Regions from separate parts of the Homo sapiens genome. Here region 2 is linked to region 1. The links come from fine-mapping of genetic effects on gene expression. A gene starts in region 1. The other region holds a variant in brackets. All regions are shown on one strand. Distances are from middle to middle.

What was found. PIP is the estimated chance that this variant, and not a neighbour inherited with it, causes the effect.
Region 2: its variant is fine-mapped to the expression of PLEKHB2 in whole blood (TOPMed, PIP above 0.99).

Annotation. Positions count from the first base shown.
Region 1 is chr2:131,104,104-131,107,011 of GRCh38, reverse strand. PLEKHB2 (pleckstrin homology domain containing B2) reads right to left here and starts at 1,676. Exons shown (of 8, transcript NM_001100623.2): 1 at 1,614-1,676. RefSeq lists an enhancer at 1,823-1,952.
Region 2 is chr2:131,134,726-131,137,633 of GRCh38, reverse strand. All of the region lies in intron 6 of PLEKHB2 (pleckstrin homology domain containing B2), which reads right to left. Among named protein-coding and RNA genes, the nearest start is that of PLEKHB2, 31 kb to the right of the region's middle. The variant A/C (reference allele first, on the strand shown) is at 1,249.

The sequences.
Region 1 (2,908 bases):
TCTGTCCTCTCTATACCACTGCTGTACACATTTAATCAACTCAGTCCTTGAGAATAGCAGGAAATTTACTTACAGAATGTACCACCGCCTTTAAAATATAATGCTAGCAAAGAACCGCTGTCAGGTTCTGAGTTCTTTTCTGCAGCCTTCTTCAATAAGCATTTACTGACCACCTACAAAGTGCCAAACACTATGCTGTTTATTAGGGAAACCCTGCAACACAGTTTGATTCCTGTCCTCAGGGAGATCAGTACGAATAGGGAAGAGTCGAGTAAAGAGATCACCACCACAGAGAGTAAACACCAGGCACAAAGGAAGCCCAGACAAGCTCCAGTCCTATCAATATCCAGCCAACCAGCCCAGGGTTAGGAACTTTCTGAACCTAGGGAACACTCCTGAGCACCACAATTGAACCGTCACAGCAGTATTCCCACACCCCCACAGGTCCTTAGGCAGACACACCCACTGCATGGGCACAGACGCACAGCTGTGTCTGTGCATACATGTTTTGGTCATTAGTTTAGTCAACAAATACTGAGGGCCACACTAAACAGGCAGTTACCAGTGCCAGCTCGGGTCCTAATTCCTCATGTGACTTCGGACAAGTCACTTCCTGAATTGGTACTGGTTCATACCAAAGGCCACAGAAGACCTTGGAATATTCCTCCCCTCAGCTGTCAGCCCTCCTCCCTCGGTGGTGGTTCCACCCTTTCCTAAGCACTAAAAATTTAAAGGCTGAGACCATGAGTCAGTATTATTTTGAATTAACCATGTTCCTTTAATTTTTTACAGTGACCACTCCACCTCATTCCTTTCCTCCACCCACCCTGAACCGGTCTACATTTGAGATTTAAGCGGGGTGGCGGGGCGGGGATCCCTATGCAAATCCCTGACCTCCGGAGTTTTCAATCTAGTTGAGTAACAGAATCAAACATGAAGAGAGATATGTAAGATAAGGTACACCAAGCACTTATGACTAAAGACATTGCAAGGCCAAGAGCAGGTGAAATGCAGCGGGGGCGGACCGCACCGCGAGGGTAAAGCCTCAACGCCCCCCGGGACTTAAGGAGGGGAGACCTCTGGGCAGGAGAACTGAGAAGGCAAGTTCCCTGGAGCAGAGGGAGCAGCAGGGGTAGAGATCGGACGCCGGGAGACCCCAGGCGGCGGGCCGCAGCAGGTCCCGGCAGTCAGACATGTGGGACACTCCCGAGCGGCCAGAAAGGATGCAAGGCGGAGGCTGCAGTCGGGAAAGGAGGAGGGTCCGCGGGGCCGGAGAGGAGGGGCTCGGGGAAAGGACCGGAGGCGGACGCCGGGGAAGCGATGGGAAGGGGTCTGAGAGGCCGGGGGGGCCCACTGGGAGGGCTCTCGAATGGGCTGCTCTAGGGGAGACTGAGAGGGCGGACCTGGGGAAGGTCAGGGTGGTCCAGGGAGGTGGGCGGACCCGTGGCCAGGAGCCTCAGGGAAAATTAGGGAGTGGGGACACCGCGGAGGTGGCGCGGTGCGGGGTCCCCTCAGAGGGGCGCGAGGCTGGGCAGCTCTAGAGGAGAATCTGGAGAGGCGCGGGCCAGAGGGGAAAGGAGCTAGGGTCGTCCGGACTAAACAGGGACACTCACCTGCGAACCAGCGTGGAGAACACCAAGACGCCACGGCGATTCCTCGCCTGCTCGCCTGCAACTGCCGCACGTCCGGCGTCCTGGCCGCCGTTCTGACGTCACGCCTCGGCGCGCATGCGCGGCGGGCCCCGGCCGGTGGGGCGGGGTGTCTGGGTGGTTTTCTGAGAAACGGGACGGAAGGCGGCAGGGGGCGTGGGTCTCCCAGGAGGTCGGCGCTTCCACTAAAAGGAAGTGTTACAAAGTGAGATCCTGTCTTAAAAATATAAAAATTTAAAAAAAAATTGTTAGCACCCTAATCTTGGTTTCTAAATACCGCTCTCTAAAAATAGGGCCAAGGCGCCTTAGAGAAATGGGCGACTCTAGGACCCGGGCGCAGAAAGCTCCAGCTGAGCCGGGAGCGTTTTGTAGGCCAGAAGCTTGAGGTGCTCAAAAAACTGAAGGACCGGGCGTCCAAGGGCGCAGGGATCTACCCAGAGAGCTTCCGGGGGCCGCGCCTGGGACAATTTGAGCAGCAATATAAAGTACATTGCATTAAGTTATAACCTAAAGTATAAAACAGCCCAGAGCCCGTGCTGCTATAAATACGTGATTAAATAAATGAGGGAGAAGGGATAATCTTCCTTGCAGAGGAATTCTAATAATACCTCATCCAGAGGGGTGTGGTAATCCGTCCACACCCACCCTGAGTGTGGCCTATGCCTGGGGACGACCTTTCCAAGAGTACAGTGTGGAAAGAGGGCTGTAGAGCCACTCCACGTGAAAATCAAAGTGATTAGTCACTGCACTTGCCCTTGACATGTGATTAAAAAAAAAACCGTGACCTCAGTCTAACTGAAAGATAAACATCAGACAAATCTCGTTTGTGGGATATTCCTCAAAACACCTCACCAGTACTCCTCAAACTATCAAGGTAATCAAAAGCAAGAAAAAAACTGAGACACTGTCATATGCAACATGGTGATGTAGCTAGGCTATAAACTTAAAATAAAATTTAAGTTTAGGTAATAGTAGTTTTTAGTTATAAGAAATGTATAATGGTTATGTAAGATGTTAACATTAGGAGAAATTGTGTGAAGGGTATACTAGCTTTATAACTTTTTTGTAGTCTAAAATTATTCCAGATGAAAAGTTGGGGGTTTTCTGAAGACAATAGAGGGAAAATAAATGTTAGCCAGGTGAGATGGTTCATGCCAGTAATCCCAGAGCTTTGCGAGCCAGAGGCAGGAGGATTGCTTGAGCCCAGAAGTTTGACCTGCAATCAAGCCACTGCGTTCCAGCCTAGCAGGGGTTGGGGG
Region 2 (2,908 bases), 31 kb before region 1:
CCAGTATCAGGAATGAATGAACTGGAGGATTTTTACTATAGACTCTGCAGACATCACAAGGATAATAAGAAAACACCATAAAGAACTCTACACATCTAAGTCAGACAACCTATAAGAAAAGGAACAATTCCACAAAAACTACAAACTGTCAAAACCTACTCCATACAAACTAGAGAATTTGAGTAGACCAGTCACTAATAAGAAAGCTGTATCTGCGGTGGACCCAGAAGAAAGGTCATGTGAGGATACAGGGAGGAGGAGGCCATGTGCAAGCGCAGGAGGGGCCTCAGGAGAACCAATGCTGCCCAACACCTTGACCTTGGGCTTTCAGCCTCCAGAACTGTGACAAATAGATGTGTGTTGGTTAGGCCAAAAAAAGTAAAAAGAGGCCGGGCACAGTGGCTCACGCCTGTAATCCCAGCACTCTGGGAGGCCGAGGCGGGCAGATCACGAGGTCAGGAGATCGAGACCGTCCTGGCTAACACAGTGAAACCCCGTCTCTACTAAAAATACAAAAAAATTAGCCGGGTGTGGTGGCAGGCGCCTGTAGTCCCCGCTACTCAGGAGGCTGAGGCAGAAGAATGGCGTGAACACGGGAGGCGGAGCTTGCAGTGAGCCGAGATCACGCCACTGCACTCCAGCCTGGGCGACAAGAGTGAGACTCCGTCTCAAAAAAAAAAAAAAAGAAAGAAAAGAAAGAAAAAAAGAAAAAAGATGTTGTCACTTAAAATCTCCCAAAAAAGAAATCTCCAAGCCCTGACAGTTTCACTGGAGATTTCTACCAAATTTTAAAGAAGAATTAATGCCAATTCTACACAATTTCTCCCAGAAAAGAAAAGAGCAGAAAACACTTTCCAATTTATTCTATAAGGTCAGTATTGCCTTGATAAAACAAAACAAAGTACAAAAAAAGAAAACTATAGACCAATATCCCTCATAAATATAGACGCAAAAATCCTTAACAAATATTAGCAAACTGAATTCAGCAATAAATAAAAAGAATCATACACCATGACCAAGTAGGCTTTATTCCAGGGAATGCAAGGCTGGTTCAGTATGTGAAAACCAAACACTATAATCCACCATATTAGCAGGCTAAAAAGAAAAGAAAAATCTCATGATCATATTAATTACTGTAGAAAAAGTATTTAACAAAATCACTTTGGGAGGCCCAGGCAGGAGGATTGTTTGAGGCCAGGAGTTCAAGACCACCCTGGGCAACAGAACAAGACCCTGTCTCTACAACAA[A/C]AAAAAAAAATTTTTTTGCAGCCATGGTGGCTCAGGAGGCTGAGGCAAGAGGATTGCCTCAGCCCAGGAATTCCAGGCTGAAGTGAGCTAATGATAGTACCACTGCACTCCATCCTGGGCAAGAGAGTGAGACCTCATCTCTCAGGGGGTCAGGGGAGAGAGGAGAGGAGAGGAGGAGAGGGGACGGGCGGGGGAAAGGAGAGAGGGAGGGAGGGAGGGAGGGAGGAGGCAGGAAGACAGGCAGGCAAGCAACTGACAACCAGTCATGATAAACACTCCTGGAAACTAGAAAAAGGGAATTTCTAAACCTGATAAAGAATAAATATAAAAAACCTCCAGCTAACAGCATACTTAATGAATGCATTAAATACTAAATATATGCATATGTAAAACTAAATACTGAATTCAGTACTAATTAAATACTGAATTAAACAGTACATTCATAATAAATGAATGCATACTTAAAACTGAATACACTGGCCGGGCGCGGTGGCTCACGCCTGTATTCCTAGCACTCTGGTAGGCCAAGGTGGGTGGATCACAAGGTCAGGAGATCGAGACCATCCTGGCTAACATGGTGAAACCCCGTCTCTACTAAAAATAAAAAAAATAAAAAAATTAGCCGGGCATGGTGGCAGGTGCCTGTAGTCACAACTACTAGAGAGGCTGAGGCAGAATGGTGTGAACCCGGGAGGCGGAGCTTGCAGTGAGCCGAGATCTCGCCACTGCACTCCAGAGCCTGGGTGACAGAGCGAGACTCCATCTCAAAAAAAAACACTGAATACATCCCCCCTAAAATCAGGAACAAGGCAAGGATGTCTTCTCTCACTACTGCTATTCTACATAATATTTGAAGGTCTAACCAAGGCAACAAGGCAAGGTAAGGAAACAGAAGGCATAAAGGTTACAAAGAAAACAGATTCCTATTTGTAGATGACATGATTGCCTATGTAGTATATCCCAAAGAATCTACAGAAAAAGGAAATAGAGTAAGTGAGCTTAGAAAGTTTACAGGCGCCGACCAGGCACCATGGCTCATGCCTGTAATCCCAGCACTTTGAAGGCCAAGGCAGGTGGATCACCTGTGGTCAGGAGTTTGAAACTAGCCTGGCCATCATGGTGAAACCCCATCTCTACTAAAAATACAAAAAATTAGTGTGGTGGCACGTGCCTGTAATCCCGGCTACTCAGGAGGCTGAGGCAGGAGAATCGCTTGAACCCAGGAGGCGGAGGGTGCAGTCAGCCAAGATCGCGCCACTGCACTCCAGCCTGGGCAATAAGAGAGACACTCTGTCTCAAAAAAAAAAGAGAAAGTTTACAAGCTGCAAGATCAACCTACAAAAATCAATTCTATTTCTCTATACTGGCAGTAAACAAAGGAAACTAAAACTAAAAATGTAATACCATATGCAATCACTAAAAAAACTGAAACACTTATAAATCTAACAAAACATGTATGGGATTTTTATACTGAAAACCTCAAAATGCTGATGAAAAAAATCAAAGAGGATCTAAATACACATGCAGTCCATGTTTATAACTGGAAGATTCAACATTCAATAAAGATGTCATTACTCTCCAAATAAATATGACACAGGTTTAAGGCAATTCCTGCAAAAGCCTTGCAAGATTTCATTGTAGATATAAACAAATTTATTCT